Linked DNA regions of Homo sapiens: region 2 is reported to be linked to region 1. Evidence: microRNA targets listed by miRTarBase, many of them from high-throughput screens and not tested one by one. Region 1 holds a microRNA gene; the other region holds the end of a gene's coding sequence. Distances are from middle to middle.

Region 1 (4,389 bases):
AAGGTCTTGCCATATTGCCCAGGCTGGTCTCCAACTCCCGGGCCCATGCGACCCTCCTGCTTTGGCCTCCCAAAGTGATGGGATTATAGGTGTGAGCCACCGCACCTGGCCAAATCATAATTACTTAAATCTACCTCCTAACTGGGCATGGTGGCTCATGCCTGTCATCCCACCACTGTGGGAGGCCAAGGTGGGAGGATGGCATAAAGCCAGGAGTTTGAGACCAGCCTGGGAAACATAATGAGACCCCATCTCCACAAAAAAATTAAAAATTATCCAGGTGTGGTGGCACATGCCTGGGAGTCCCAGCTCCTCGGGAGGCTGAGGCAGAAGGACTGCTTGAGCCCAGTAGTTTGAAGCTGCAGTAAGCTATGATTGTGCTACTACACTCCAGCCTGAGTGACGAAGTGAGAACTTATCTTTAAAAAAACATCAATCAATCAATCTACCTCTACTCCATTTTTTTTTCTTCTAGGCAAACTCAGCTCCTTATTAGAATATACGAGGCTGTCCAGGATGTGTTTACTATCTATCTTTCCAAACTTGCGTAGATGGTCCCCTACGCTGACTACTTTCCTACGGCCCCCTGTACTGTTTCTCACCTCTGAGCCTTTGCCTGTGCTGTGCCCTCTACTGGCAATACCACCCTTTCCCACTTTCTTTGATTAATTTCCACTGTTCCCCAAGACTCATATTATTCCCTTCAGAAACATTATCTGACCACCTCGTTCACATCTTTCTCAGCTACTCATCCCCTCCCCTACATACATACACACACATATACATATATATACACACATATATAATACACACACACATACACACACACACACACATATACTTTTTTTTGTTTTTTTTTTGAGACAGGATCTTGCTCTGTCACCCTGGCTGGAGTGCAATGGCACAATCACAGCTCACTGTAGCCTTGACCTCCTTGGCTCAAGCGATCCTCCCAACTCAGCCTCTTAAGTAGCTGGGGCCATAAGAGCATGCCACCATGGCTGGCTAATGTTCTGATGTTCTGGTGGAGACAAGGTCTCACCATGTTGCCCAGGCTGGTCTTGAACACGTGGGCTCAAGCAATCCTCCTGCCTCGGCCTCCCAAAGTGCTGGAATTACAGACATGAGCCACCACATGCCCCTGCCTTTTTTTTTTTTTTTTAATTAAAGAAGAGGTCTTGCTGTGCTGCCCAGGCTGAAGTGCAGTGGCATGATCCTACCTCACTGTAACCTCAAACTCCTGGGTTCCTCCCACATTGGCCTCCCAAAGTGTTGGGATTACAGGCATGAGCCACTGCGCTGAGCCAAGGTACTTCTTTTAATGTGTTCCTTTAACACCCTGTACACATTCCCACGTGGTGGTACAACCTTTAAGTATTTGTATCCCCAACTAAATTGTGAATTCCTTGAAAATAAGGACTGTTTTATTCATGCTTGTATCCCCAATACATAGCACAGAACTTTACCCTCAGAGGATGCTCAGTGTTTGATGAATAAATAATGATTGACAGAGAATTTGGATTCAGAGCTCATAGTACAGAGTTCTCTGCAGCCTCACATGACCCCCAACAAACATGAATGCTACTGCTCTTAACACTACTACTGGGGAGAGAAAGAGTCCTCTGATTACTATCGTAAAAAGAGAAGGTCACTTAACACAAATATGGGACAGAGAAATGACGGGGAGAAGGAGTATGCAACTTGGCAATGATACCTAATCTCTCCCTTTAAGGGCACAAATTCCACTTCTCACACAGACACACAGACAGCAGGCATGGAGTTCACTTTAGCACCTCTACTCTTCATAAGGCATTTCAGACATTTTTTTTTCCCTTCTAAAATTTCTGAGCTAATAGGGATCCTGGAGAACATACTGTCTAGTACACTTTCCTCATTTGACCTTTGAGAAAAACAGGGTCCAGAGAGATTAGGGTAACATCTCACCCCAGTAGCTGAATCTGGGGAAAAGTTCCAGTTTCCAGACTTTAAATCCAGTGCTCTATAATGATCTGGCTGCCTCTCTGCCCTCATCAAGCTCTGCCCATCCAAAAACCTAAGGGGCACTGTCTTGCTGGATGGGCATCCTCAGCAGCTCACAGACCTGGCCCTGCTGAGGCTGTGCGATGATGATCTGCCCAGGCTGGATGGTGGTCGTGGAGCTGGTGGTCTGCTGGCCTTGCTGCTGGCCCTGGACTTGGACAGCGGTGGGTTGCTGAGCCAGCGTGAAATAGTACTGGACTGGCTCGGCAGGAGTTACAGACTGGCGCACCTCCTCCTGTTGGGTGGAAAGAGAGGCAGGTAAGAGGAAAAGAACCAACTCAGCAGCCGCCACAGTGAATTTCCACTCTTCCCCCAAACAGGCTATGTGCAGTTGCCTGCTGAATGCTGAGCTCTCCACATTTGAAGCCAAAGGAAAGTGGAATTCAAAGAGACCAGTTATGCTAAATCAAACTAAAAATAACAGATCCTATAGGCTTCACAAAACATACAGCCAATTTCTGAAGTACGAAATAATCACCCATTGCATGATAAGTTGCAAACGGGCAAATAAGTACCGTAACTAAAAACCACACACCAGCAGTGCTTGTCAGTAAATGCTGTCAAGGCCTGTGATCTGAGAACAGTGCTAATTGCAAGTGTTGGGAAGATGCTACCCAAACATCATGCCTCTCAGGCCTGGTCCCAATCTCCCAAATAGGCAGCACTCTTCTCGTTTTAGCCCCACCACTTCAAGGGGGACAGAACAGGTTAATGGGAAACAGGGCTTTTCCTGAGCTGAAATTTCAGGATCGAGAGCACTGGTAGGCAAGTACCCAGCTTTTCACAGCTTGTTGAAAGCTCTGTGGTCACTGAGGGCATGTCTATCCAGTGTCACATCTGGTTCTGGTTGTACTTAGCCACAGAAGCGCAACCCAGGGGGCCTGATGGACAGCTCTCCGCTGGGGTACTGCCTTGGCTGATTAGGGAGGTCGCATTCTGTCCGATCTGCGGAGTGGAGACTGTTCCTTCTTCAGCTGATGTTTTCCATGGCAGAAGGAGTAAACAACCCTCTCCCAGCCACCTTGAGCTCACAGCTGAGAGTGTAGGATGTTTACACACACTACAGCATGGTTATAGCCCACAGGGTCCAGGGTTGATCAGCCCCTGACCACTGACACAGAACGGCGTCTGATCCGGAGTGACCTGTGTGACACATGGTGCCCCTGCCTGGGACAACAAAAACAATAAAAACACAGAACCACTTGGGCTGGCTGAGTAAAAATATTAGCTAAATTTACTCATGTCCTTATTCAGGGCAAAGTTTGCCACGTTCCAGAAAAGAGGAAAAGACACTTCTTAGATGTACACAGACCCTGTGGATTGCCTCCAACTCCCCAAAGTAACATTTACAAAGCTGGTATTGACCCCATCCCCACACTATGTTAGGTGCCCTCAACTGTGCTTCCAAAGTACTGTCCTCACAGTATACATTTTTGCACTTGCATGTCAAATTAACTGTCTGTTCTACTAAAATGTTAAGCACCATGAGGGCAAAGCCTAGCTCTCTCTTGCTCTCTGCTATCCCCCGCGTTCCCAGGTAGGCACTCAGTAAGTGCGTGATGAATGATGAATGGATTTAGACAGGCAGACAGTTAGAGGCAGGAAAGTAGTTCTCTGAATCCAACTTGCTGATATGACAAATTCTCTTAAACCCAACAGCTGTTACCAATAGAAAAAAGTAGTCTCTAAACTCTCTTTTGGTACCTCTAAGACTCTGTGGCCACAGTGTGAGGAAGCAGCTAGTGTCCCCTGTGGAACAGAGCTGAGTATCCTTTGTTTGCCTGATGTCTGGGGGCTAGGATACTAAAACTAGGACTGCCAGTATCTACCCCTGAGAAACATGGGTCTCTGCATGACATGGTTACTTGACAGCCATCTACCCAGCTTAGGGAGATACCTGTAACATTCTGGGTTTCTAAGTTAATATATGAACTGACTTTTTAGGTTGATATAGTCTGTGCTTCAGACACAAATAGTTTTAACCCTCAATATGATTATGCTAAGGCAGAAGGAAAAGGAGATTCCCTTTTATTTTCATCTAGGTCTCAATTTCCACAACAATTTCAACCCCAACTTATCATCATTATAAATAAATGTCAGCCTGGAAACTAGGTATTGGCTGTGGCAAAGCTAAAATACTGATACCTTTTGCAGCCAAGAAACAGAAGCCAACTGCTCTTTGCAAAGCTATTGAAGTAGGTTCAAGGTACTTGTGTTCCACTGAGATCTCCCTTATTATTTTACAAAAAGCACAAATCACTGAAATCCAGACCTAACTTGGAAAAGCTCTTGGGTAATGAGAGGGTATACAGGAATGAGAGCCTCAGAACCAGCTGTGTAGGAAGCTAG
Region 2 (4,000 bases), 21 Mb from region 1:
CAGAGGGTGCAGGTCTCGGCCATGTACCCCTTTGCCCCTTTCTGAGAGGGGCAGATGCCCAGCCCAGTGACCCAGAGCCTCACCCCAGGAAGCGGGTCCATGCAGCAAATCAGCCAGGCACTGGCATGGTGGCCCCCAGGCCTCCACCGCCTCACCAGTCCCTGTTCAATCTGCTGATAACGCCTTTCCTCCCTTGCAGGTCTGTGCAGACTTTTGCAGACAAATCAAAACAAGAAGCTCTGAAGAATGACCTGGTGGAGGCTTTGAAGAGAAAGCAGCAATGCTAAACCTCTGTTTCATGCTAACCAGACACGCCGTGCACTCGTTAGATTCCTTTCTTAGAAAACTCGTTTTCTGCTCCCTTCCCTCGTCCCTTCCCTCCCCGACAGGTCACATAACAGCTGCATCATTGACCGCACAGCGCCATCTCTCCCTGAGAATAAAGCCGATAGCCACCCTCCTCCGGCTCCGAGCCTGCTTCTGCCACACCTCGCTCTCAGTTCTCTCCACATTTCCATAGAGACCGTGTGGTTTTTGTTCACCCGGGCCCCCCGTCTTCCTCCCTGTCCCCCCATTTATAGGCATAAAATCCACTGTCTGCCAGCCTCCCTTCCCTCCCACCTTTTTGGTACATTGGTGTAAAAAATGTAAAACAAAAAAATTTTATGAACTAACTGTGGTGTGTGAAAGAGAGAAGAAAAACTGGAAATCTTATTCCGTGTGTGTTTGGGAGTTGCTTGGGGTTGGGGGTCGTGGGGACAGGGGACAGCTCTGGGAGCAGAGGTGGCCCTCGGTGCCGTCCTGCGCAGACTCTCCCGTCCCACGGAGGCCGCGGGGTGGGGGCTGGGGGGGGTGCCGCCGACCGTTCCGCTCTTCCGGCCAGGTGCTTTTCTGTCAATTTCTATGGAATGCAAAAGGAGGTTTTTGTTTTATTTTGTTTTTTTGTAAAGCTTAAGAAAAAAATCTACATCTTATACTTGAGCCTCCATACTTAAAAAAAGAAAAGAAAAGAAATCAATAAAAAGAAACTGGGGCGCAGTTAGCGCTGGCCTTCTGTGTTCCTTCTCGCCGGCCTCGCTTTCCGAGCGCGTGTGGCCGTGGCCGTGCGCTGGCTCCAAGCTGGGACGCGTGTGGGCCCCGCTCACGGCAGCAAGGAAGTGTCCCGTCCCCAGCCCCGCCGCCCTGAAAACACCAGGTATGTGATGAGGTGCAGAGTCCCTGTCCCTTTCCGCCCTCTGCCGTTGGAGGGCAGAAGCACCAGCAAACACTGTTCTGGCGCCGCAGCACGCACCTCCCGCCGCCTTCCCACTGTGCCTAGTACAAATGTGAGGCAGCCGAGGTTCAGTTGCAGTAACTCAGCCAAGGCTGCACAGAGCCACAGAGTCTGCCTTCTACCCTCCAAACTGCCCCAGGGAAGATCTGAAGCAGATCTCAAAGTCCCTGCCGAGACCATCCCCCCATCTGTCCGTGGCCAATCAGCGGGCTCCACAACCTGGCCAGCCCATGTGTTTGAGGTCCCTGGGTCTGATGCAACATCTTTTTTTTTGAGACGGAGTTTCACTCTTGTTGCCCAGGCTGGAGTGCAATGGCATGATCTTGGCTCACTGTAACCTCCGCCTCCCAGGTTCAAGCGATTCTCCTGCCTCAGCCTCCTCAGTAGCTGGCATTACAGGCATGTGCCACCATGCCCAGCTAACGTATTTTTAGTAGAGACGGGGTTTCTCCTTGTTGGTCAGGCTGGTCTCGAGCTCCCGATCTCAGGTGACCCTCCCGCCTCCCAATGTGCTGGGATTACAGGCGTGAGCCACCGCACCCGGCCGATGCAGTATCTTTATGGAGTGCAAGTGCCATGGCATACAGACAGCAGAGAAGCCCCTGCCCCCTGAGTTCCTAGTGCCACGTGGAGAACGCAGGCACACTCCAGCCGTGAGCCATGAGGGGATGCACCCAGCGAGCCGTTCCCCATGGGCACACGGGTGTTGCAGCCTCCCGGGGTCATGTTGGCAAGGTGCCTGGCACACAGAAGGGCCCAGCGAGCTGTTCCCCATGGGCACACGGGTGCTGCAGCCTCCCGGGGTCATGTTGGCAAGGTGCCTGGCACACAGAAGGGGCTGGAAAAACAAATGTTTTGCTTTTCATTTTCTTTCATGGTAAAGTTTTATCCAGGATCATCAAGGTAGGTACAGGGGCCACTGCAGTGGGGTCTTGTGGATGGGGAGAGAGATTGGGCTCAACTCTGAGTGCAGCAGCACGGGCAGGTGGGGATTAGAGCCAAGGAGCAGAGGGGGGCAGTGGGTGGAAAATGACTCAGAGGAAACCTCAGGGGTCAGGGGTCTTCCGGCCAAACACACCTAACAGGATTCTTGCTGAAGACAGGCCAGGGTGACCAGACATCACCTGGGGGTGGGGGTGGAGGATGAGGCCAGGTGTGGTGGCTTACGCCTACGATCCCAGCACTTTAGGAGACCAAGTTGGGAGGATGGCTTGAGCCCAGGGCTTTGAGACTAGCCTGGTTAACATAGACCCCATCTCTACAAGAAATACAAACCAGGCGTGGTGGTGTGCACCTGTGGTCCCAGCTACTTGGGAGGCTGAGTTGGGAGGATCACTTGAGCCTGGGAGGTTGAGGCTGCAGTGAGCCGAGATCGTACCACTGTACTCCAGCCTAGAAGACAGTGAGATCCTGTCTCAAAAAAAGAAAAAAAATATCAAGGATGGCCGTTTTTGTAAAATTGACTTAGCAAGGGATTGCTGAAACTGGATTTTACAAGGGCACACAGGTGGGCCTAGGGGAAGGTTCAGGAGCCTGACTAAAGTTTGGCCAAGCAAATAATCTTTGGCAGTTGTCACTTCAAGAAGAAACTGGACAAATGGAAAATGCCTTTCCTTGGACACATGAGAGGAGCTGAGGTCGCAAGGGAAAAACAGCCACCCCTGAAGTCAGTGAGACAGGCACACCGGGAACGCCACAGCAGAGGCCTGCTGTCCTGCAGCAGAGGCTGCTAGGCTGGGAGCTGCTGTGCACGCCAGTGGTAATTCCACAGAACTGCAGAGGTGGAGTGGACTCTGACTCACCTGAGAGTCACCCCTGGAGGCTCAGGCCCGCTCTCCTCTCAGGGGATTTCCCTTCAGGAAACCCACCAGTTGCTCCTTGAGCTGTCACTTTCATCAGCCGTACAATCCTGGGACCAAAAATAATGCTTGAAACCCAGAAATTGTGACTGCGATGTATGACAGGCCTGATCTTGCTCTGCTATCTAGAATCTTCCACAGGGACCCTCACTACCAGTTGGGTTTTTTTGTTTTTGTAGAGACGGGCCCTCACCCTGTTGCCCAGGCTGGTCTCAAACTCCTGGCTTCAAGCGATCCCCCACCTCAGTCTCCCAAAGTGCTAGGATTACAGGTGTAAGCCACCACGCCCAGCCCTCATTGCTAGTGTTGTGTTGTTTTGTTTTATGATGGAGTCTTGCTCTGTCACCCAGGCTGGACTGCAGTGGCGTGATCTCGGCCCACTGCAACCTCCACTTCCCAGCTTCAAGCGATTCTCCTGCCCCAGCCTCTCAAGTAGCTGGGACTACAGGTGCCCGCCGCCACGCCCAGCTAATTTTTGTATTTTTAGTAGAGGCCGGGTTTCGCCATGTTGGCCAGACTGGTCTCGAACTCCCGAATTCAAGCGATCCCTCCCCCAACTTGGCCTCCCAAAGTACTGGAATTACGGGTGTGAGCCACCGCACACAGCCCTCACTGCTAGTGTTTTAATGCTAAACTCAGCTGGTGAGATTGGGGACAGTGGGCCTCGAGGATGTGTTTGGTGACCCTCTCCCACTTCCCAGCCATGCCTTTCCCTGCTCGTTCCTTGGCTGCCTGGTGAGGAAAGCTCTGGGGTCCAGCAGGGCACCTCGGGCATCCCTAAGAAGAGAACGAAGGCGTATGGGAGCCCCTGGGGTTCATGGGCTGCAGGCTACAGACTCCTGGGGTTTGGCAGCAGCAGAGATGTCCC

What was found. Region 1 holds the annotated microRNA hsa-miR-30c-1-3p (CUGGGAGAGGGUUGUUUACUCC, at 3,036-3,057, opposite strand). A microRNA usually pairs through its seed, bases 2 to 8, with sites in the 3' UTR of a target mRNA and lowers its output. Matches are read on the target gene's strand: a 7mer-m8 pairs with bases 2 to 8, a 7mer-A1 pairs with bases 2 to 7 and ends in A, and an 8mer does both.
Region 2: miRTarBase lists CAPZB as a target of hsa-miR-30c-1-3p. The part of its 3' UTR that is shown has no 7-base or 8-base seed match.

The regions. Positions count from the first base shown.
Region 1 is chr1:40,756,007-40,760,395 of GRCh38, reverse strand. MIR30C1 (microRNA 30c-1) reads right to left here and starts at 3,112; the gene lies at 3,024-3,112. NFYC (nuclear transcription factor Y subunit gamma) reads right to left here. Exons shown (of 10, transcript NM_014223.5): 6 at 2,102-2,275.
Region 2 is chr1:19,335,817-19,339,816 of GRCh38, reverse strand. It overlaps CAPZB (capping actin protein of muscle Z-line subunit beta), which reads left to right. Exons shown (of 9, transcript NM_004930.5): 9 at 200-1,042. The coding sequence ends at 287. Among named protein-coding and RNA genes, the nearest start is that of SLC66A1, 25 kb to the right of the region's middle. RefSeq lists enhancers at 1-332, 1,499-2,463.